Linked DNA regions of Homo sapiens. The protein of the gene in region 6 purifies or fractionates together with the protein of the main gene of each other region. This does not show direct contact. Each region holds a gene or a part of one and is shown on either strand. Other genes may lie near its edges.

Region 1 (3,500 bases), on a different chromosome or scaffold from region 6:
CTAGAGAGAGTCAGTGCCCCTCTCAAGGAACCAACAGATGGGAGGCTGTGTGGTCATGGCCAAGTCAGGTCACTGCTCCTGCGAACATGGGACAGCCCCCTCTTGCAACCGTGCATGTTGAGGGTGACGTGAGCACCCAGCTCTGCACTGGCACAGACGAGGCAGGTGTGGGGCAGAAGGCTTCCCTGACACCTCCCACGTGCAAAAGCTGCCTGCAGGGCGCGCAGAGCACACCTGAACCTTTTAGGCCCCTGCAGCTGGGGTGCCTCCTGGGCCCCTTCCCTTCACGGGTTCCTGAGGAATTCCCAAGTCCCCTTGTGCCTGCCCCCCACTGATGACTCAACCCAAAGGCTTCTGGCTCCAGGGGATGCAAACTAGGACGAGTTAAGGGGCCCCATTCCTTGGCCACACGCCCATGGGAAGCTGGGAATCCAGCACAGCTCGCACCTGGCCACCTGCTCAGTCAAGGCCTCCTCCATCTCCAGGTGCAGGCTGTCCACAATGCTCACCAATCGAAAGATGATCCATTTCCTCAGCCGGAACACAGCTCGCTCAGGCCTAGCGGGGCAGGAGGCGAGGTCATGTGAGCCACTTATAACTGGCAGAAACAGGCTGGGCCCAGTGGCTCACACCTGTAATCCCAGCACTTTGGGAGGCCAAGGCTGGCCAATCACTCGAGGTCAGGAGTTCGAGACCAGCCTGACCAACACGGTGAAACCCCATCTCCATTAAAAATACAAAAATTAGCTGGGTGTGGTGGCGGGTGCCTGTAGTCCCAGCTACTGGAGAGGCTGAGGCAGAGAATCACTTGATTGCTTGAACCCGGGAGGCAGAAGTTGCAATGAGCTGAGATCACACGCCACTGCACTCCAGCTTAGGCCACAGAGAGTGAGACTCTGTCAAAAAAAAAAAAAAAAAAAAAAAAGAACCAGCAAAAACAGGACATTCCTTTGCCTGATCTCAGAGACAACACTCCAAGATCTCCCCATCCCGATCGCCAGTGTGGGGACACACAAGTAAACTGAGGCCTCATATGAGAGCTAAGGCTCTTCCCCCTCGCTCCTCTCATGGTTTAGAGCCAGGACGCTGTGGAGGGCGGGCTTGGGTCGCGGGGCTCTGCAGGCCTAGGAAGTTAACTCCTAAATTAGGTGTCCTCCCCCAAGGTCCACTCACATGTGGAGCGATGAATCCTGGGCTTTCTTCTGGTTGTTGGTGCTGAAGTCAACCAAGGAGTCCAGGTCTGGCTGGAGAAACATGGCCCGCAGCCAGGCCACATAGCCCTGCAGGGCCGGAGGGCTCAGGAACCGCACGACCCGCCAGAAAGTAGGCGTGACAGGGAGGCCTTGGTTGGTGACAGATGAGAAGGCCACTAGCACGGCCAGCTGCCGCTCAGGGTCATCCTGGCACCCCTCTAGGAAGGTGCCCACGTAATCGTCCATCTCTGGGGCAAACTTGAACTGCTTTGGGAGCTGCAAGAGTTAGGCATGGCGCTGAGCCCACCAGCCCAGGGGGGCAGGCGGTTAACAACCCAACAGCCAAGGGGGCAGGCGGGCAACAGCCCAACAGCCCAACAGCCCGGGGGCAGGCGGGCAACAGCCCACCAGGCTTGTGCCCACTACAGGTTAAATCGAGCCCCGGCAATCTCCTGTTGTACACAGCTAGGCTGTGCCTGAACTTGCAACAGTCCAGTCACCCCAGTGCTTTTGTCTGGCGTCAAGGCCTCTGTGGGTCTGACTGCCCCAGCTTCAGCACCTCCGGCCCCAGAAGGCCCCTCTTTCCGCCTTGCTGGATGGGGATGGCCTGTTTTCCTGGCTCAACGCAGGGCAGAGTGGTAGTTAGGAGGCGAGACTGACCTGGGTTCAAAGCCCACGCTGCCAATTCCTAGCCGTGTCATCTTCGGGACCAAAAACAACCACCTCTCACGCGCTTACTCAGTGCCAGCACCCGCGCTCCGCCTTTTTGGGCGGCAGCTTAGCATTTTTAGCAACTCTTTGCGGTTGGCCAATATTGTCATTGCACAGGTGAGTACAGTGAGACACAAAAACACCTAGAGGTAACTTCTCAGGGTCAGAGGCTCCCAGTGGGATAGTGTCCGGCTTCACAGCCCAAGCTGTTTTCCTTTCAATTTTTTAGACTTGTGCCCCTGGCATGTAGTGCCATGATCATGGCTCACTGCAGCCTCAAAATTCTGGGTTCAAGGGATCCTCCCACCTCAGCCTCCCGAGTAACTGGGACTACAGGTGTGCACCACCATCCAACCCAAGCTCTTAACCACTGCCTGATACTTCAAGTCTCCCCCTCACCCAGAATGACAGCTCTCTGAAACTCACTGCAAAGATAAAATGAGCTGGTGAGAACAGTCAACCCAGCAGCACTTACTGGGCACCAGGCTCACTGGTGCCCAAACATGGTCATGACGACTGTTCTCATCACTGCCACATGGGCGGGGGCGGAGAGAGGTCTGAACAGCCCGCTGGCTATCCATGCCCACAAGGGGGCCTGCTGGCAGAAGGGCCTGACTTTATCAAAACTGTCAGAGGGAAGCCAGGTACAGTGGCTCACGTCTGTAATCCCAGCACTCTGGGAGGCCAAGGCGGGTGGATCACCTAAGGTCAGGAGTTCGAGACCAGCCTGGCCAACATGGCAAAATCCCGTCTCTACCAAAAATACAAAAATTAGCTGGGCGTGGTATTGGGCGCCTGTAATCCCAGCTACTCAGGAGGCTGAGGCAGGAGAATCGCTTGAACCTGGGAGGCGGAGGTTGCAGTGAGCCAAGATCTCACCACTGCGCTCCAGCCTGGGCGACAAGAGCAAAACTTCATCTCAAAAAAAAAAAATTTGTCCGAGGGAAAGGGGTTCAGGCAGCTCACTACCCAGACGGAGGGGACACCCATAGCTCTAGCCAAGCCCCCGAGGTGCCCTGCTCCCCTTTTTGGCAGGGAGAGCTCCACGTCTAGCCTTTCTGGCAGTGTCGAGCTGCACGGGCATTACCCACCTTAGCAGTGCACACGTGCTCCCCGTAATGGCGGATCACGTCTCCCTGCATCACCAGGTGCAGCTGCTCCTTGGTCAGCAGGGGCAGGGCCGCGCCCAGCAGGCGGAAACACAGGTAGCTAAAGGGGGTGCAGGACAGAGCCTGGTCAGAGCCCTTGGTGCCCCTGGTGGGAACCTCAGGACTAGTGGCCTAGCCCACTTCACGGACAGGGAAGGGGGCCGAGAGAGGACACGCGTCGCCCGCACCTGGCTGGCCAGAACTGCATCTTCAGCAGCCCTTGTTCCACCACCTCCTTCCAGAACCGTGGGAACTTGTCTTCCTTGAGTGCCAGGCGGAGCAGGTCCAGAGCAATGGCGGGCAGCTTGCGGTCCTTCTTCACAGAGGAGGCGGCCATCTTCAGCACATTCACCAGCCTGCGGAGGGCAAGGGACTCAGGGAACACTTGCCTCACAGGCAAGGGCCAGGGTGACAAGAGCAGCCGGGACACCCCCAGGCCAAACGACAA
Region 2 (3,500 bases), on a different chromosome or scaffold from region 6:
TTGTCTAAGGAAAATGTTAGCTATAATTCTTTGAAATGTTTTTTCCAAGTATAACAGTTAATGCTTTGTTCTTCTGTCTTATAAATACAAAACAATATTCCAAAAAATGTCTTCATTGTTACTAAATGCAATTAATGGAGCATAATGTGAAGCAGGCAGTGGCCTCAGAAGCCGTCTCCTGGTGCCTCTGCCCACTATCAATGAGCACACTTTCGTGTTTCCAATGAGAGCACTCCCATTACTACAATCTCAGCCGGACAACACTTTAGCCTAAAAGCCCTACAACTGACTTACTAACAGATGTCTTAATAGTCTATTCTGGTTTAGTAGTTGTACTTACTGTTGCCCAGGTTGGAACAAGGTCACATTTGTTAAGTACAAAAATGAGGTGTTTCCAAGGTTTTTCCTTCTTCAGGTAAGTTTCAATGTGAGGGGAACGAGTACCCATTGGATCTCTAGCATCAAGAACTTGAACTACAACATCTGATGAATCTATCACCTGAAAATTCAGAAAGGCAAAAATGGTTTGCTACAGTACAAATAAAAGAGGGATGACATTTAAGGGAGTCTGGGAAAAATAAAATAATAATATTTAGAGACAACTTCAAAACAGTCTCTGGGCAGAGTTCGTTGTGGCTAATCTCAAGGCCCAGTGATCAGAATTCAAAAGGTTTTTCATCCTGTGGCTTTTGAAACCTGCTGAATTTAAAACAGAAAAACTAGCTTAGATGAAACTCAACTTATTTCCTAACTACTATGGATTATTGAACTAAATCATTTACTTCTTAGACTTCTTTAAGTTTGTAATATTATCTTTAAGTTTGTAATATTATAGGTTTTGTGTATTTCACAAAAAACTACAAAGTTTAGCTTGCCTTCACGGTACTAGTTTCCTATCATGTTACTATTTAATTACGTGATTATACTTGAAAATTTTTCTTCTGAAGGTTATTATTAGTGCATGGACATAAACCTCTGCCGGTTAAAGATCACTGGATCAGAAATCAAGATATACAAAGCCTCCTTCACTAACAAGCTAGTCGAGCTAGGTACAGCATTAAACCTTTCTAGACAGGAGTCCTCATCGATAAAAGGAGAGGGGTGGACTAAATAACTTAAAATGTTGCATGTGACTTTAACTAGGCATGATAAATTTGGCAGGAAATCTTAAAAAATACTGACAGGTAATAAATATGTGATTGTATAATAAAAGATAGCTGTTACTCTTATACAAGTACTTTAAAAAATGCAGTTACCTAGATCAATGGTAGTACGCCTTCCGAGTTTCTTTGTAGGAGGAAGAGGATGGAACAGGCAGTGGTGCCTGTACTCTGCGCAACAGAGCTTCAATATATCAAAATTAGTTTTCTTCTACAAAATCATGAAAGCCCAAGGAACCACTCAATGGGAGAGAATTTAGGAGTCTTACCTTGTAGAGCTCACCCCATATTCTTTTGGACTGTCCCTTTTTATAGATCTCTTCTTGAGCTTCATTTCTAAATAAGAAAGCACCCCAAATGAGCAACTGAAGCACCATCAAGACTAAAAGGATGCTTTAGGGTAAAGTCAATGTACCAAAAAAAACAGTATCAAACCCAGTTGGAGATGGACCAGAAACAAACTGAATTTAAAAAGTGTGCCCAAATGTCTGTCAACAAATAAATGGATAAACACAATGTGGCACATATATACACAAGATAGCATTCAACTTTAAAAAAGAAGGAAATTCCAGCTGGCTCAGTGGCTCACACCTGTAATTCCAGCACTTTGGGAGGCCAAGGAGGGCAGACTGCTTGAGCCCAGGAGTTCGAGACCAGCCTGGGCAACATGGCAAAACCCCATCTCCACAAAAAATACAAAAATTAGCTGGGCATAGTGGTGCATGCCTGTAATCCCAGCTACTGGGGAGACTGGGGTGGGAGAACTCCTTGAGCCCAGGAGGTTGAGGCTGCAGTGAGCCATGAGCAGGCTACTGCTCCAGCCTGGGTGACAGAGCAAGACCCTGTCTCAAAAAATAATTAATTAAAAAAAAAAAAAAAAGAAGAAGAAAATTCTGACACCTGCTACAACACGAATGAACCTTGAAGACATTATGCTAAGTGAAATAAGCCAGACACAAAAGGACAAATACTGTATGATTCCACTTATATTAGGCACCTAAACCAGTCAAATTCATGAGAGAGAAAGTAGAATGTTGTTACCAGGGGCTGGGGGAGAGGGGAAACGGACCGTTAGTGTTAAATGGGTACAGGGTTTCAGTTTGGGATGATGAAAAAGTTCTGGAGATGGATAGCTGCAATGATTGCACAACAATGTAAATGAACTTAGTATCACTAAACTGTACACTTGAAAATGGTTAGAAGAGCTGGGCACAGTGGCTCACACTTGTAATCCCAGCACTTTGGGAGGCTGAGGCAGTGGATCATAAGGCCAGGAGTTCGAGACCAGCCTGACCAACATGGTGAAACCCTGTCTCTACTAAAAATACAAAAAAATTAGCCAGACGTGGTGGCGGGCACCTGTAATCCCAGCCACTCGGGAGGCTGAGGCTGGAGAATCGCTTGAACCCGGGAGGCAGAGATTGCAGTGAGCCGAGATCACATCAAATGGTTAGAAGAGTACTTTTTTTTTTTTTTTTTTGAGACGGAGTCTCGCTCTGTCGCCCAGGCTGGAATGAGTGGTGCGATCTTGGCTCACTGCAACCTCCGCCTCCCGGGTTTAAGCGATTCCCCAGCCTCAGCCTCCCAAGTAGCTGGTACTACAGGTGTGCGCCCCTGCGTCCAGCTAATTTGTGTATTTTTAGTAGGGACTGGGTTTCACCATGTTGGTCAGGCTGGTCTCAAACTACTGACCTCAGGTGATCCGCCCGCCTCAGCCTCCCAAAGTGCTAGCATTACAGGTGTGAGCCACTGCGTCTGGCCACATTTTTTGTTACATATATTTTACCACAATAAAACATTAAACTAAAAAAAAGCATGACTGAATTAGGCAGTATGTCACAGAGAATTACAAAATGGAATTGGCAGGACCTGAATCACAACCTATACTCCATAGCTCCCATATACAGCAGTATTTTTCTGATAAGGTTTAGAATCTGTTTATTTACTAGTCTCTAGGACATTTACCCAAGGTAAACAAAAATAGTTTTGTCTTTACTGCATTACCTACTATACCTGTTGCGGAAGGAAAAATTCAAATCGGCAGAATACAAAGCCAACGAAAGTTCAAATAATTCTAAGAACAAATAAATGAACTCACTGCCTCTTTTTGCTTGGCCTCAAATGGCTTGACATTTTATCTCTAGGTGGCCCAATGCTTGAAGATGGGCTGACAATAGCAATGAGGTAATAACACTGATGCAGTCAAAGGACAATGCCTCTTCACTAAGACAGCAAAACCTCCACTTCATTTAAGAGACATGAGATGGACGAGAATGAGAGCTTTCTAGCACTGCCCAAGGGAAATGAAATTAAACCCTTTCTCAAGAGCAATGTGGCAGC
Region 3 (3,500 bases), on a different chromosome or scaffold from region 6:
CAGAGGCAGCCTTGCCTGCTTCTGGGGACCACCCCACCACCAACCCCACTTGTACCCCCCGAACAGGGGTGATTAGACCAAGGGTGGCCCGAGCCAAGTGGGACCAGCTAATTTTTTAAAAATATTTTTTAGAAGGCCAGGTGCAGTGGGTCATGCCTGTAATTCCAGCACTTTGGGAGGCGGAGGCAGGCGGATCACCTGAGTTCGGGAGTTCAAGACCAGCCTGACCAATGTGGAGAAACCCTGTCTCTACTTAAAATACAAAATTAGTCGGGTGTGGTGGCATATGCCTGTAATCCCAGCTACTCGGGAGGCTGAGGCAGGAGAATCGCTTGAACCCAGGAGGCGGAGGTTGCAGTGAGCCCAGATTGTGCCATTGCACTTCAGCCTGGGCAACAAGAGCAAAACTCCATCTCAAAAAAAAATAATAATTTTTTTTAGAAATGAGGTCTCGCTATGTTGTCCAGGCTGGACTTGAACTCCTGGGTTCAAGCAATCCTCCCTCCTCAGCCTCCTGAGTAGCTGGGACTACAGGCATGAGCCACCGTGCCCAGCTACTGGCCTGGTCTTGAAGTCAGCGGACAGGAGGCAATGAAGTGCAAGGCATAAATGGGTGTAAAGCCGTCTAAGGATGCCTTTTGTATTTTAAAACCCATCGCCCCAAAAGGAGACAAGACGCATCAAAACCAGCTGCAGTGAGTGGTCTCAGACAGAAAAGGGAACAAAAGGGAGAAAACGAATCCAGTTACTACTTTCCCTTCTAAGTTCCTGAGCTGTGGATGACATACCCTGCTTGAGGTTCTCAGGCCGAATCCCACTGACCGCTGTCCTATAGTCCGTCACGGGCTCGGTTGGTTTGACGTACTTGTCATAAACGCACTTCCCATACTGGTTCACGATGGACACACGGGCGGCCATGCTCTCCTCCCCCTTAGGGCCCACGCCCACCATCTCACAGTCCAAGGCTAAGGCTCTTGTCAGGCTGAAGGGTAACCAAAGGCTGTAGTTTAATAAACACGGCAGGCCACAGGGCTCCAGGTCAGAGCCCCAGGGATCCATGGACTAAGTGTCAGCAGAGAAAAGCTCTCTGCCCCTCACTCATTTGCACCCACGTGACAAGCTCTGTGTGGTCCTGGTTCTTAGCAGGACCCTGGGAGGTGCTTGCCTCATTCACCTCAGGGAGAGGAAAGCATCCTCTTCCTTGAAGAAGCCCCGCCCTCCACGGCTAAGCATCCCCAGCAGACCCCACTCCCTGAGACCAGCGTACCCGCCGAAGGCCTGCTCTTTCACGAGGCTGAGGCTGACGCTGCCCTCGCTCTGACCCAACTGTTTCCTCGCTATCTTGGCCGCCTCTGGACCTATGGCAGCTTCGATATCCGCTGGGTCCACGTCGTCAAACCAGATGTCTTCCCTAAAAGGCAAAGATAACAGGCTGATCACCAGAAGACCCTAGTGCAACTGGTGGGGTGGGGCTGTGGGGCTGACTGTGCAGGTGAGTGGAGCGATGGCACAGCCTGCCTCTCCCACAGGCTGGCCCCAGACACCCCGACTGCTGGCCCTGCTGCTTCTGCTATTTTGATCATCTTGGCATTTTCCTTTTTTTTTTGAGATGGAGTCTCACTGGGTCACCCAACCTGGAGTGCAGTGGCATGATCTTGGCTCACTGCAACCTTTGCCTCCCAGGTTCAAGTGATTCTCTTGTCTCAGCCTCCCTAGTAGCTGGGATTTTACAGGCGCCCACTGCCACGCCTGGCTAATTTTTTGTATTTTCAGTAGATACGGGGTTTCGTCATGTTGGCCAGGCTGGTCTTGAACTCCTGACCTCAAGTGATCCACCTGCCTCGGCCTCCCAAAGAGCTGGGATTACAGGTGTGAGTCACAGCACCTGGCCTCATCTCTTTTCTTTTTAATTAGAAAATACACTCATTATTCAAGATTTAGGAACACAGACAAACACAAAGAATATAAAACAGAAACACATAACCCACCACCCAAGTGTAATGAGTGCTAACATTTTAATTATGAAGGTAACACGTTCATTATTGAACACTTAGGAAACAGACAGACAGAATGCCTGTAAGATGGAAACACAGAACCCCTTGCCCTCCGTACTAGGAAGCTCACACAGGCACGTAACACCTGCCTGGGGAATCTGTCTCTTGGGCTAAGGTTAAATGTCATTTCCTTAGAAAAGCCATTCCTGGCCCCACTGAATGGACACGTCCCTCTTGTTCCAGGCGCCCAATACCTTCTCCTCACTAGATTTATCCTGACCACACTTAATCAACAGCTGCAGTTTACAGTCTGTCTACTGCACTTGACAATAAGCCTCAAGAGGGAGGAGCAGGCCCACCTCACTGAACTCTATCCCAGACAGCCTGCCTAGCACAACACAGGGAGGCCCCCAAATGGCTCATTCCTCAGCCATCAGCGACTGTGTCCTGAACACCCAGGCAACATGAAGCCAGCTGTAACTTATGAACACGTCACCTCCAGCTGAACCATTCAGAGAAGGCCACTGACTCCCGGTCCACCCCACGTGGGTGGCCAGCACAGGGTTTATTCTTTTCACTTGTTTTTTTGAGAGTCTTGCTCCGTCACCCAGGCTGGAGGCAGTAGTGCAATCACAGCTCACTGCAGCCTCAACCTCCTGGGATCAAGTGATCCTCCCACCTTGGCCTCCCAAGGAGCTGGGATCACAGGCAACAGCCACCACACCTGGCTCCATCACAGGGTTGAAGTAATCACCAGGCACTGAGCCAAGAGTGCCAACCTCACAATCTCCTTATGATGCCACCATGACTACCACAAGGCACAGAGGACGTCAGAAACTTGCCCCAAACCACCCAACTGGCGAGAAGCAGGGACAGGCCTCATACTTGGGTCTTTCTGGCTTCAGCACGCTTTCCTTCCACACACGTGTACTGGCACCCACTAAATGCTGAGCTCTGCTCAACGCTCGGAAGAAGCAGGCCCTGCCTTATCATGCGCACACTCTAGGGGAAAACAAGTAACAGCGAGTAAACAAAGGAACAGACGACATCAGGGTAAAGTGATGGAGAGACTGCGGTGAGGCCACCAGCCTCCATAAGGAGACAGGCCTTGGTGAAGTCGCTGTGCCTCGGTTCTCAGTGGTGAGGTGGCCCATACTTACTCGGTGGGTGGGGCTGGGGCTGCCTCCTTAGCTTTCCGCTTCTTATGCTCGATGTCCCCTCGTTCTGGAACAATATCACCATTTGTCCTTTCCTTGGTTCCTTTCTTATTGTGCTCTGTTCCACTGGCCTTGGTGCGAGGTACTGGCGCCCTCCTGTCCATCTTGGAACCTGAAGGAACAGAGCCCCTGCTGGCCTCCTGGTCTTTTCCTGCCGGCATCTCCTCTCCCTTCACTTGAGGCGAGGTCTCTTTTTTGTTTTGCTGGATAATTTTGGGCTTCTTTTTGGAACCCATCTGAGAGATGACAAGAGGCTTTTCTGGGGCCTGAGATTTTTGTTTCAGCAGCC
Region 4 (2,663 bases), on a different chromosome or scaffold from region 6:
GTCGAGGCCCATCTGATTCCTGAGCCCACATTCCTCCTCCCAGCAGATAGGACAGAGAATACAAATCAGAGGAGCCTGCAGAGCCCAAACAAGCACCCCAGGGTATGAGGCAGCATTACCTGTGTATGCGCTGCACCTCTGATGCTAGCGTATATGGCTGGACTGCGGACAGTCACAAAGTAAGACGAATGCCAGTGCCTCTTAGGATTATCTCCCTAAGCACATTCCAAACTGAGGACAGCATGCCACTCACCTTCGCAGTTTTTGCTGCTTCGGCAACTACCTGCGGGGCTTTTACCACTTCAGCAACCACCTCTTTTTTGGCAGACTCACTGAAAAAGAGGTAGCAATAGGTCAAATTCACTGAATGGCTTTCCAGGGCAGTACTGATGTTATGTAGTGTTATCTGGCAAGTCTAAAGCCACCATCAAAATACTGACGCTGGACAGAAGAACTCACCACTTACTGTTGCAGACTGACTCCCTCTAGAGTCCCACGAGCCAGACTAGAAAGGGATAACTGTCTGCCGTGCAGGCCCACACCCCTAACTGGCCTGGGCAGCCAAAATCTCACGGGAGCTGAAGAGCTGGTTCCTGTGGTCCTGCATTTAGCAAGTTTGCCCCAAACCAAGTGACTCCCCCTCCCCTGGGCTCTACAACCTCCATGCTCACCTGTTCCTCACCTGTTGTCCATGTACTCCTGCGTCCAGATGGCAAGTGGGCTCTACCTTCCCATCCTCACCTGTTGTTGACATACTCCTGCATCAAGGCAGCAAGTGTGCCGTCTCTACCCACCCCGGCTCTGAAACATCCTGCCCTCACCTGTAGTCAACATACTCCTGCTTCCAGGTGGCAGGTGTGCTGTCTGTGGGCTTCCCATGCTTGTCCAGAAGGCCCTGCTTGATCATCAGCTTCTTCTGACTTGCCTGGTGGAACATCAAGGTGTCAACATTAGAATGGTGTCAATGCTGGAAGCGGGCATGGTGACTACAAAGAATAGAACAAGGTTCCTCCCTGGTGTATTCTCAGCAGGGCCTCAAACTCCTCTCCAGAGCATTCAGAATTTGCCCACTAACTCCAACACACACAGGACTTGTTGAAGATCACAAAGCTTATTAGTGAGAGCCTCTGCAGACATAACGTCCCCACCGCAGCCACTCTACTTTTTTGCCTTTGCACATGCTGCTTGCTCCCAATGCCCTGAACTCTCCCCTCCCCTCTTCACTTCACCAACACCTAACCCACTCTTCACACCGGTGTGGCTTAACAGACAATCCCTTGACCAGACTCCTTGACCACTGTGGACACTCCAGGTGACAGACACCTCTCTGCACTCCTTGGTAGCCACTAACGTGCATGAAATTCGCCATTCCACTGTGTGATTACGTGAGTAATGCCCAACTGTTTCCCCTCATTAGACTGAAATCTCTAAGGCCCAAGACAGGGCCTGTTTCCACTCATCGACAACCCAGAGCCCAGCACAATACAAGGCTGTGGTGGTGAAACACACCAAGAGCTGCCCAAGTATTCAACAATGCCAAACAAAAGAACCTGGCAGGAGCCGCCCCATCCGGGAGGGAGGTGGGGGGGGGTCAGCCCCCCCGCCCGGCCAGCCGCCCCGTCCGGGAGGTGAGGGGCGCCTCTGCCCGGCCGCCCCTACTGGGAAGTGAGGAGCCCCTCTGCCCGGCCGCCACCCCGTCTGGGAGGTGTGCCCAACAGCTCATTGAGAACGGGCCAGGATGGCAATGGCGGTTTTGTGGAATAGAAAGGCGGGAAAGGTGGGGAAAAGATTGAGAAATCGGATGGTTGCCGTGTCTGTGTGGAGAGAAGTAGACATGGGAGACTTTTCATTTTGTTCTGCACTAAGAAAAACTCTTCTGCCTTGGGATCCTGTTGATCTGTGACCTTACCCCCAACCCTGTGCTCTCTGAAACATGTGCTGTGTCCACTCAGGGTTAAATGGATTAAGGGCGGTGCAAGATGTGCTTTGTTAAACAGATGCTTGAAGGCAGCATGCTCCTTAAGAGTCATCACCACTCCCTAATCTCAAGTAATCAGGGACACAGACACTGCGGAAGGCCGCAGGGTCCTCTGCCTAGGAAAACCAGAGACCTTTGTTCACTTGTTTATCTGCTGACCTTCCCTCCACTATTGTCCCATGACCCTGCCAAATCCCCCTCTGTGAGAAACACCCAAGAATTATCAATAAAAAAATAAATTTAAAAAAAAAAAAAAAAAAAAAAGAACCTGGCAGGGCACGCAACCCAGTACCACTTACCTTTGGACCTAAACCCCACTTCCGAGGGTAAGTGTCTCTCTCCATGATCACTCTCTTGATCTTGGCTACTATACCATGGTCGCAGGTAGAGATGACCGCTGTGGTCATTAATGCAATAGCTACAGGCATTGAATAAAGAAAAGAATTATTTGAAGGGTGAAAGAATTGATAATTGATGAGCCCCAATTCTACTGTTGTATGCCACTTTAAAACTTTTAAAACTCTGAGCTACTACTTTAATTGGGGTTACCTTTGCTCAGGATGTGCATATGGAGGAAATACTCCATTATGAGAAGGAGGCCTTTGAAATGACGTTAAACTTCTGAAGTTAAAAAACACCTAACCAAAGCACCTAACGATACACATAACAGGCTTGCAGCTCAAGA
Region 5 (3,500 bases), on a different chromosome or scaffold from region 6:
TACAAAAATTTGGCTGGGCGCAGTGGTTCACATCTGCAATCCCAGCACTTTGGGAGACCGAGGCAGGTAGATCACGAGGTTAGGAGTTCAAGACCAGCCGGACCAACATACTGAAACCCTGTCTCTACTAAATACAAAAATTAGCAGGGCATGGTGCCCCGAGCCTGCAGTCCCAGCTACCCGGGAGGCTGAGGCAGGACAATCGCTTGAACCCAGGAGGCAGAGGTTGTGGTGAGCCGAGATGGCGCCACCGCACTCCAGCCTGAGCAACTGGAGACTCCATCTCAAAAAAAAAAAAAAAAAAAAAGAAAACAAAAACAGCAACAGTCAAATACTACCTTTAAGTTTGCGTTCATTTATAAGTTTGACATGCAAGTACTTTGAATTTTTATTTTTCTTTTGAGATTGGGTCTTGCTATTTTGACCGGGCTGGCCTCAAGAGATCCTCTCATCTTGGCTGGGTGTTAGGATTACGGGTGTGAACCACTGCGCCTGGTCATACTTTGAATTTTTAAGCTTTCGGCTCTTTCGGCCTTTTTCCTGTTTTCTGCCTTCATCGTCATGCTCAAAGATTTTGAAGAACCACCAGCTTAAAACCTAAACTCCCAATTTGATCTTTCATGCAGGTTCTCTTTTAAAGTGCATGTTCTTATATTTGTTTTCAATAAATGCATATGGACCAACCTCAGAACTGAAGGACAAAGCTGAGAGCCAAATCAAAGTATTCAATGCATTACTGGTACTGGCACACATAAGACCAATTATAAACAGTACTTTATACCAGTGTGCGTATTAACTGTTTGTAACAATAGTTTGATCTAGTTTAATATAAAGTCATCAAATATTGTTTCCAACCATATTTTAAATCCCAAGAAAATCTTAATATCCCTTTTAGAATCTTATTTTTGTCAATAAATATCTACATAAAACCATAAGACAAAATCCTTTTAGGGAATAACAAACCTTGAGTAACAACTTGTAAAATGAATATAGAGCTATTTAATCATATTTTCTTTCAACCCAATCTCATTAACTGCTCACCATAAAACATACCAGGCTTGATGGGTATAACACATCCACTAAATCTTCAGAACAAAGGGACATAATCAAACTTCACAAACACTATAGTCTACCCTTCTGAAGAGTCACAAGTCACAGCATTGTAAAGGCTCACAGACCCAATATCCTTTCAACTCAGCTCATTTAACTTAAACTGACAACAGATGACCACCTGCCCTTTTATTATAAACTATTACATAGGATGGCTTTTTGTAAATGACTTTTATAAAACCCTCATGCATATAACTATGTCAAATTCCTTTTTTTGTCAAGATTCCGGAAGTATATCAAGTTTCTAAAATCATACTTACTCTTCATCATCATCCTCTTCATCATCATCGTCATCATCTTCATCAGCAGCAAGTTTTACTTTTTTCTTTTAAAAGAAAAGATACGTACTCATGAACAAGAGCTGTTCTATCACCAAACTAAAAGCTATAATACAAAACCTATAATAAAATTGCCATCTCTACCTGTGGAACCTTGCTACCACCTCCAGGGGCAGACCGCTTTCCAGATATACTTAAGAGTTTCACATCCTCCTCCTCTTCATCTTCTGACTCTGCATCTTCCTCCACAGCTAAAATACAATTTATTAGACATTATAAAACTCAAGCAGCAAGAAGTCAGAAAAAAAAAGAACACTGATAGTAAATACTCTAAAAACTGAGACTTCTATTCTATTTAAAAAAAAAAAAAAAAAGAGCACATGGGAAAAGGAACTTTTTAACAAAAGTATTTTGAGGCCTAATGTTCACTGCCAGGTTTTAAATGCAAGAAGCCTGGGGAGGGTGGCTCATGCCTGTAATCTCACTTTGGGGAGGCCAAGGCGGACCACTTGAGGCCAAGAGTCCAATCTGGGCAACATACTGAGACCCCATCTGCACATATACAAAAAAAATTAGCCAGGCGTGGAGTGTGCCTGTAGTTCTAGCTATTCCAGAGGCTGAGGTGAACCCAGTAGCAGTTCGAGGATATAGCAAGCTATGATCACATCACTGCACTCCAGCCGTTATAATGAGACTGTCTTTATTAAAAAATAATTTTTAGGCCAGGCACAGTGGCTGACACGTGTAATACTAGCACTTTGAGAGGCCAGGGCGTGCAGATCACGTTAAGGCCAGGAGTTCAAGATCGGCCTGGCCAACATCACGAAACCCCTTCTCTACTATAACTATGAAACGCAACTGGACTTGGTGGTGCACGTCTGTGGCCCCAGCTACTGGGGAGGCTGAGACAGGAGGATCGCTTGAATCCCGGAGAGGTTCCAGTGAGCCAAGATCGTGCCACTGTACTCTAGCCTGGGTGACAGCAAGATTTCCTCTCCCCCCCGCCCCAAAAATTTATTTGTCCTCTCCAATTTCTAGACTCACATTGGAACCTATTAAAAAGACAGTAGTACTATACCCATGCTTTAAGTCCAAACTGGGAACCAAGCAACTGCACTAAAGAGGACAAACTAAGTAGTATAATATATAAAAATAACATACCTACTAAGTGCTGTCCACTAATATGCACTGGCCCTGAACCACACTTCAACCTTAAGACCACTGGTGGTGTTATTTCAAAGCCCCCAAGGGAAACCTAGAAGGGAGAAATTTTTCATCACTAAACATGTGAAGAAAATGAACAATAAACATTACAGGCAAACACATAAGCCAAATCAACAAACCAGTGAACCTGTTTTTCCACCTCTGATAAAAGTAGCAGCAGAAGCCCCCATGTTCAAGAGTTGACCATCGAACTCCAGTGACAGAAGATAAAGAACCACTTTCTATCTCCTTGGCACAACTAAATGACACCAAACCTACCTTAAAACAGAATTAAACCTTGACACAACATCCAAAGTATGTAAGTGCCCTTACCGTTGGCTGTACAGACATTTTCAAAGTTGCCAGTGTTACTTTAATTGGACTGCCTTCGTAATTCATTGCCTCTGCTTCAACAATGTGCAACTCATCCTTTGCACCAGCCCCTAAACTGACCTGTGAACAAAAAAAAAATACTACTTCAACTTTTGAGTTCCACCTATTTTACACCCCCCCACTAAATGTTATATGCAGCCATGCGTCACTTAACCACAGGGCTAGGTTCTGAGAAATGTGTTGTTAGACAATTTCATCTTTGTACAATCATAAGAATGTGCTTATACAAACCTAGATGGTATAGCCTACTACACACACCTAGGCTACAAACCTGTACAGTGTTACTGTACTGAATACTGTAAGCAACCGAAACACAGTATTTGTGCATCTAAGCATAGGAAAGGGCCGGGCTTGGTGGCTCATGCCTGTAATCCCAACACTTAGGGAGGCTGAGGCGGGCAGATCATGAGGTCAGGAGTTTGAGACCAGCCTGGACAACATGGTAACAACCTCGTCTCTACTAAAAACACAAAAATTAGCCAGGTGTGGTGGCACATGCCTGTAATCCCAGCTACT
Region 6 (2,977 bases):
GGGCAACAGTGAGACCCTGTCTCGAAAAATAAAAATAAAATACAGTAACACATTAAATTGTACACCTGAACTACATAAAATGTTGATTTGTAAAAAAAAAAAAAAAAAAAGTTATCCATTAAGATAATTTAGAAAACAAAAAAATCTTTAGGCTCTAGGGCTAGGTAAAGAGTTGTTAGCACAATCCATAAGATAAATTGATAAATTGAACTTTATCAAAATAAAAACCATTTGCCCTAAAAAGACTCTGTTATGATGAAAAAACAAGCAAAAAGACTGAAAAAAAATTCACAAACTGTTATGTCCCACAAAGGAGTACTATTTAGAATAAATTTAAAAACTAAAATCTCAACAGTTAAAAAAAAAAAAAACCCACAAAAACAACAACCAAAAAAACCCCAAACAACTCAAATTAGAAAATAGGGGAAAAAAATTTAAAAAAAGAGAGCAGACATTTCAACAAAAACATATACAGATAGCAAATATGCACAGAAGAAGGTGCTCAACAACATTAGTCATTAGGGCCACACAAATTCAAACCACAATGAGCGGTTACCACACATCTATCAGAATGGCGAAAATACAACACAGTGGCAACGCCTAATATTGACCATGATGTGGAGAAACTAGATCCTTTACACACTGCTACTGGGAATATAAAATGTGTACAGAGACTCCTGAAACAGCTGACAGTTTTTTCCTTTTTAAATTTTTGTGGGTACACAGCAGGTGTATATGGGGCACGTGAGATATTTTGATACAGACATGCAATGTATGATACTTACATCAGAGTAAATGGGGTATCCATCACCTCAAGCATTTATCCTTTTGTGTTACAAACAATCCAATTATACTCTAGTTATTTTAAAATGTACAATTAAATTATTATTGACTACAGCCACCCTGTTGTGTTATGAAATACTAGATCTTATTCATTCTATTTTCTTGATACCCATTAACCATCCCCACCTCTCCCACAGCCTCCCACCACCCTTTCCAGTCTCTGGTAACCATCCTTTTACTCTCTATCTCCATGAGTTGGCAACTGTTTTGATTTTTAGATCCCACAAATAAGTGAAAACATGCTATGCTTGTCTTCCTGTGCTTGGCTTATTTCACTTAGCATAATGACTTCCAGTTCCATCCACGTTGCTGCAAACGACAGGATCTCATTCTTTTTATGGCTGAATAGTACTCCGCTGTGTACATGCACCACATTTTCTTTACCCATTCATCTGCTGCTGGACACATAGGTTGCTCCAATCTTGGTTATTGTAAATAGTGCTGCAACAAACACGGGAGTGCAGGTATCTCTTCAACACAGGGATTTCCTTTCTTCTGAATATATACCCAAACAGTGGGGCTGCTGGATTGGACGGGAGCTCTATTCTTAGGTTTCTGAGGAACCTCCAAGCGGTTCTCCATAGTGGTTGTACTAATTTACATTCCCACCAACAGTGCACCAGCGTTCCTTTTTCTCCACATCCTCGCCAGCATTAGTTATTGAGCTGGTGGTTTCTTAGAAAAGAAAGAATATGCAACTACTGTATGACACAGCATTGAACATTCGCTTCAGAAAAACTGACTTAGTTCACACAGAAACCTGCACATCAATGTTTACTGCAGCTTTATTCATTAATAACCAGAGACTAGAAACCACCCAGGTGTCCCTCCACAGGTGAATGATGAAAGGACTGTGATGCACGCACAGCACGGGATACTCCTCACCAATAAGATGAATATTGGTCAGTTCAGCAACCTGGGTGAATCTCCAGAGAAAAACGCTGAGCGAAGAGTCAGTCTCAAAAGGTTACATACTGTATGATTCCATTCATAGAACATTCGGAGATTCCAGAAATGAAGAACAGATTAGTGATTGCCAGAGGCTAAGGAGGGGGTGGGGGTGAGAGGGAAGTGGCTGTGGCTACAAGAGGGCAGCAGGAGGCAGCCTTGCGCAATGGCGATGGAAATGGAAGCGTATCCATGTCAACATCCCGGCTGAGATGCTGTACTACAGTTGTGTAAAGTGTTATCCTGGGTGGCAACAAGGTAAAGGGTACGCGGATACATAAGGACGCCTGAGTCTCCATTATTTCTTACAACTGCATGTGAGTCTACAAGGATCTCAAAACAAAAAATGTAACAACAACAACAAAAATAACCATTCCAGTTGTCCCCCTTGATCTGCAGGGGACAGTTCCCAGACCCCCAGTGGATGCCTGAAATCACAATGGTACTGAACCCCTATATATACTGTCTTTCCCTAAATATTCATTCATGCCTATGACAATGCTCCACTTATAAATGAGGCACAGTAAAAGATTATCAATAACTAATAATAAAATAGAACAATTTTACAATACACTATAATAAAAGTTATGTGAATGTGGTCTCTCTGTGTCTCTCTAAATATCTTATTGTCCTATCCTCACCCTTCTTGTGGTGAAGAAGGCATACAGCAGGACAGCAAGAGATCTCGCCATGCTGCTCAGAACAGCATGCAATGGAAAACTTATCAATTGTTTATTTCTGGAATTTTCCATCCCACAGATATGGGGACACTACTGTTTACTAAGTTGAGAAGGGGGTTTTAAGCTTAGAGATCTAACCCAATGCTGGCAGTCACTGAACTCTGCTAATAAAGCTGCAGGCCCATTTGAGTCTTTGGACCTGTTCTGAACTGCAGGATCCTGGGGGTTGGGGGAGGTGGCAGAGAGATGACGACTTGCCACCTCCCGACAGGTATGAGTGCTTCAGGCCTGAAGAAGCAGGAGAGAAGCTTTGTGTAAGAGACAGCATTTCAGAGGGCCCGTGAAGGCCAGGGACTGGATTCTGAGGTTGAGGATACAAGCAAGGAGACCCCAGAAACAGGCCCAGAGATGGGCAGGGGCACAGTTCAGGGGACTTCTAAGAGAACAGTGAAAGGCAGGGGCAAGAGAGTTGGGGAGGAGCGAAAGGGAACCGGGTCTCAGAAAGC
Region 7 (3,500 bases), on a different chromosome or scaffold from region 6:
TCTTGAAGGTCCAGGAATGCCTTCACTGTAATGCTTCTGAAGGTCCTGAGATAGGTGGGATGGTTTGTCCTAAGTGCTAAGGACTGCCACATGTTGCTTTTTGGGCCTTTTTTTTTTTTTTTTTAACTGTTTTTATTGAAAAATGGACCTGGGATAGAATTCAAAGCACTTTTTAAGTTGGAGTCAGAGCCTATTTCTAAATGCCAGGTTATTTATTTATTTTTAAGCAGTGGGTTATTTTACAGGCAAGAACAGTATGGCCGGGCATGGTAGCTCATGCCTGTAATCCCAGCACTTTGGGAGGCCGAGGTGGGTGGAACACTTGAGTCCAGGAGTTCCAGACCATCCTGGGCAACATGGTGAAACCCTGTCTCTACAAAATAAAAAAAAAAAAAAATGAAAAAAGTAAAGTAAATTAGCCAAGTGAGGGGGTCACTTGCCTGCAGTCCCAGCTACTCAGGAGTCTCAAGCAGGAGGATGGCTTGAGCCCAGGAGTTCAAGGCTGTCATGAGCCGTGATTGCGCCACTACATTTCAGCCTGGGCAAGGAGCAAGACCCTGTCTCAAAAAAAAAAAAAAAAAAAAAAAAAAGTTTGGAACAGTGGAGTGGCAGCGCCATCATATGGCTGTTGTTGTGCTTATGTTGAGAGGTGCTTTGGGGTTTTTTTGTTTTTTGTTTTTTATTTTTAAAATTTTAACTTATTTTAGATTCAAGGAGTATATGTGCAGGTTTGTTACACGGGCATAAAGTCAGTTTTCTTTGACACCTAAGATTAAAAAGTGAAAGATATTTTCATTGAAACTGGTTTCCTTTAACACAGTCTTTGGTTTGTGAGAATTTTCCCATTTTTGAAAAGGATTCCTAGAATACCTAAATATTGAGAAACACTGCTTACACTATAATTTCTAATTCTTACAGACTATATTTTACTTATTTTCTTTACATTTACAAAGAGTCAAGATTTTTGAGCGATTGTTTCCAGCTCTTGTTTTGAAAATTAGTAATAAAATCTCCTTTAAACTGAAGAGTGTAAAAACACTTTATTTTCTGGATAGCATATGTGGTTTGATTGAAATAACTTTGAAATCACCTTTAATTTACTTGCTTTTTCTTTTTTTTCTTTTTCTAGATACTAAAATGGATCGTAAGGATAAGCTATTTGTGATTAACGAGGTAATTTTGGAAAGTAATTGCAACAAAATATTTTTAAAATGTTAACAGTGGCTTATTTCAAAACTAAGTCATTCAGTGACTTTAAAAATTATTTTGTAAAAACTATTCAGACACATTTTATTAACTCTTCAATAACTGGTCTTCCAAATTTTTATCTCTCACAGTTTAGTGCTTCATTCATTTCTGTTTGTTTTGTCTGAACAAGCATATTGAAATTTCCTCAGGAGAAGGATTATGTCCCATTTTTTAACCCTGTAGTGTCTAGTATTATGCTAAATCCATAGTAGGTACTCAAAAAATTATCAGTCAACATATATAAAGTAAAATAAGTCCATTAAACATATATATATATAAAACCCACATGGTAAAAAGTGTTTTGCCAGTATTAAAAGTGATTTGTGTGGAACTGGCTATTAAGGTATTACAAACTGAATAGGTTACATTTTCAAAGTATTGTTTAAGATACTACACTTAGGTATTTTTTTTAACCTCTGGAAGCACAGAACATAAATTTACATTTTAAAGCAAAATTTTCAAAACTTAGAAGAATTAGGATCATTTTTTCACTATTAGCCTTCTTTAGAGCACAAATTTTTGAACCTCTGCTGTAATACCACATTATTCTATGTGCTGTAGAAACTGTTCAACAGAGCAATGTCCCTGTCATTATGGAACTTACATTCTAATGGAGACAGGCCATAAACAAGGTTTATAATTTCAAGTAAAGACAGGAGAAATAAAGCAGGTTATAGGTTTTGGACAGCTGAGGCTACACCGGAAAAACCTGTTCAAAGGGATGGTGTTTAATATTTGAGCAGAGACGTAGTGAAGGAGAAATATGGTAAAAGACCATCTAGCTAGAGAAAATGGCAACTACAAAAGCCCAGAAGTGGCACAAACTTCCTATTTTTGTGTTTATTCTAAGACCAGTAAGAAACAAAAGTTTTGTTTTTTTTTTTTAAGTTGTTAGGGTTTGTTTATTTGTTTAACTGGTTTTGGAGACAAAAGTCTCTCTCTGTTACCCAGGCTGGAGTGAAGTGGTATGATCTCAGCTCACTGCAGCCTCTGCTTCCTGGGTTTAAGCAATTCTCCTGCCTCAGCCTCCCGAGTAGCTGGGACGACAGGCACACGCCAGTATGCCCAGCTAATTTTTTGTATTTTTAGTAGAGATGGAGCTTTGCCAGGTTGCTCAGACAATTCACCTACCTCGGCCTCCCAAAGTGCTGGGGTTATAGGCATGAGCCACCTCATCCAGCCATAAGTTGTTAGGTTTAAAGTCTTAAATAATGTGGAGTTTAAGAGTACTATATTAATTAGAGTTTATGAATACTACAGTAATACAAGCCTTCACTCCTGTAATGTTTTTGTGTCTTCTCAAGTGTGACTTTTGTAAGCCTTCAAGACATTGAAGTTTAATTTGAAATAGGTTTGATATACTTAGGCTTTTCACCCAATCCCTTAGTGATTTTATAGAACCAAATCACCAGAAATGATAGTATAAATGAAGAACAACTTAAGTTTTGTGATCTTAGAATCAAAAAGCTAAAAAGTTAAAAATCAAAATAATCATTAAAAAGGATGTTTTTAGTTCTATAAGTACTGCATTTTCATAAGATTGGCTAAGAAGATTGATTATGAAGGATTAACATAAGAAGATTAGTTGTGGTATGCTTTATCCGTAGGGCATCTATTTTTAGTCTTTGTAGTTTGTCAATGGGACTATGGGCAGAAGAGGTTCCTGGCCAGGTGAGGTGGCTCACACCTGTAATCCCACCACTTTGGGAGGCTGAGGCAGGCAGATCACCTGAGGTTGGGAGTTCAAGACCAGCCAGACCAACATGGAGAAACCCCATCTCTACTAAAAATACAAAATTAGCGGGGTGTGATGGCACAGGCCTGTAATATCCCGGCTACTCCGGAGGCTGAAGCAGGAGAATCATTTGAACCTGGGAGGTGGAGGTTGCGGCGAGCCGAGATCGTGCCATTGCACTCCAGCCTGGGCAACAAGAGCGAAACTGCATCGCAAAAAAAAAAAAAAAAAAAAGGAGGGAGGTTTCCAGTAATCAGAAGTGAGACCATTTTAGATGCTAGGCCCAAAAATATGATAGATAATTTCACCCAAGATATGGGCAGAGCATCTAGTTTACCTTGGGTAGAATACCTAAGAGGAACTTTAAAGGTTCCTTCTGTGAATAAATACATGTTTAGGCCTTTGTAGCCTATTAGCCTGGTTAGGTATTTTTGAGATAATCTGGATGATATTAATCACATATAATTACTTTAGTTCTCATTTATATTATCTACTTCATTTTCCTATACTTTGCTTC

Evidence for each region.
Region 1: the proteins of LYAR (region 6) and MYBBP1A purify together in Homo sapiens (affinity purification with mass spectrometry; 3 studies listed by BioGRID and IntAct, with this or other methods). This does not show direct contact.
Region 2: the proteins of LYAR (region 6) and GNL2 purify together in Homo sapiens (affinity purification with mass spectrometry; 3 studies listed by BioGRID and IntAct, with this or other methods). This does not show direct contact.
Region 3: the proteins of LYAR (region 6) and REXO4 purify together in Homo sapiens (co-immunoprecipitation; 2 studies listed by BioGRID and IntAct, with this or other methods). This does not show direct contact.
Region 4: the proteins of LYAR (region 6) and DKC1 purify together in Homo sapiens (co-immunoprecipitation; 2 studies listed by BioGRID and IntAct, with this or other methods). This does not show direct contact.
Region 5: the proteins of LYAR (region 6) and NPM1 purify together in Homo sapiens (affinity purification with mass spectrometry; 3 studies listed by BioGRID and IntAct, with this or other methods). This does not show direct contact.
Region 7: the proteins of LYAR (region 6) and BRIX1 purify together in Homo sapiens (affinity purification with mass spectrometry; 2 studies listed by BioGRID and IntAct, with this or other methods). This does not show direct contact.

The regions. Positions count from the first base shown.
Region 1 is NC_000017.11:4,548,885-4,552,384, forward strand, and holds part of MYBBP1A (myb-binding protein 1A), read right to left. Parts: intron 3,409-3,500; coding exon 3,241-3,408; intron 3,114-3,240; coding exon 2,996-3,113; intron 1,470-2,995; coding exon 1,174-1,469; intron 559-1,173; coding exon 448-558; intron 1-447. UniProt on the Homo sapiens protein: May activate or repress transcription via interactions with sequence specific DNA-binding proteins. Repression may be mediated at least in part by histone deacetylase activity (HDAC activity).
Region 2 is NC_000001.11:37,582,438-37,585,937, forward strand, and holds part of GNL2 (nucleolar GTP-binding protein 2), read right to left. Parts: intron 1,497-3,500; coding exon 1,430-1,496; intron 500-1,429; coding exon 341-499; intron 1-340. UniProt on the Homo sapiens protein: GTPase that associates with pre-60S ribosomal subunits in the nucleolus and is required for their nuclear export and maturation.
Region 3 is NC_000009.12:133,411,511-133,415,010, forward strand, and holds part of REXO4 (RNA exonuclease 4), read right to left. Parts: coding exon 3,155-3,500; intron 3,135-3,154; exon of another isoform or gene 2,827-3,134; intron 1,412-2,826; coding exon 1,268-1,411; intron 983-1,267; coding exon 789-982; intron 1-788.
Region 4 is NC_000023.11:154,772,864-154,775,526, reverse strand, and holds part of DKC1 (H/ACA ribonucleoprotein complex subunit DKC1), read right to left. Parts: intron 2,397-2,663; coding exon 2,278-2,396; intron 926-2,277; coding exon 822-925; coding exon of another isoform or gene 818-821; exon of another isoform or gene 333-817; coding exon 254-332; intron 1-253.
Region 5 is NC_000005.10:171,390,849-171,394,348, reverse strand, and holds part of NPM1 (nucleophosmin), read right to left. Parts: intron 3,045-3,500; coding exon 2,925-3,044; intron 2,644-2,924; coding exon 2,550-2,643; intron 1,640-2,549; coding exon 1,533-1,639; intron 1,436-1,532; coding exon 1,371-1,435; intron 1-1,370. UniProt on the Homo sapiens protein: Involved in diverse cellular processes such as ribosome biogenesis, centrosome duplication, protein chaperoning, histone assembly, cell proliferation, and regulation of tumor suppressors p53/TP53 and ARF.
Region 6 is NC_000004.12:4,270,178-4,273,154, forward strand, and holds part of LYAR (cell growth-regulating nucleolar protein), read right to left. Parts: intron 1-2,977. UniProt on the Homo sapiens protein: Plays a role in the maintenance of the appropriate processing of 47S/45S pre-rRNA to 32S/30S pre-rRNAs and their subsequent processing to produce 18S and 28S rRNAs. Also acts at the level of transcription regulation.
Region 7 is NC_000005.10:34,918,711-34,922,210, forward strand, and holds part of BRIX1 (ribosome biogenesis protein BRX1 homolog), read left to right. Parts: intron 1-1,129; coding exon 1,130-1,173; intron 1,174-3,500. UniProt on the Homo sapiens protein: Required for biogenesis of the 60S ribosomal subunit.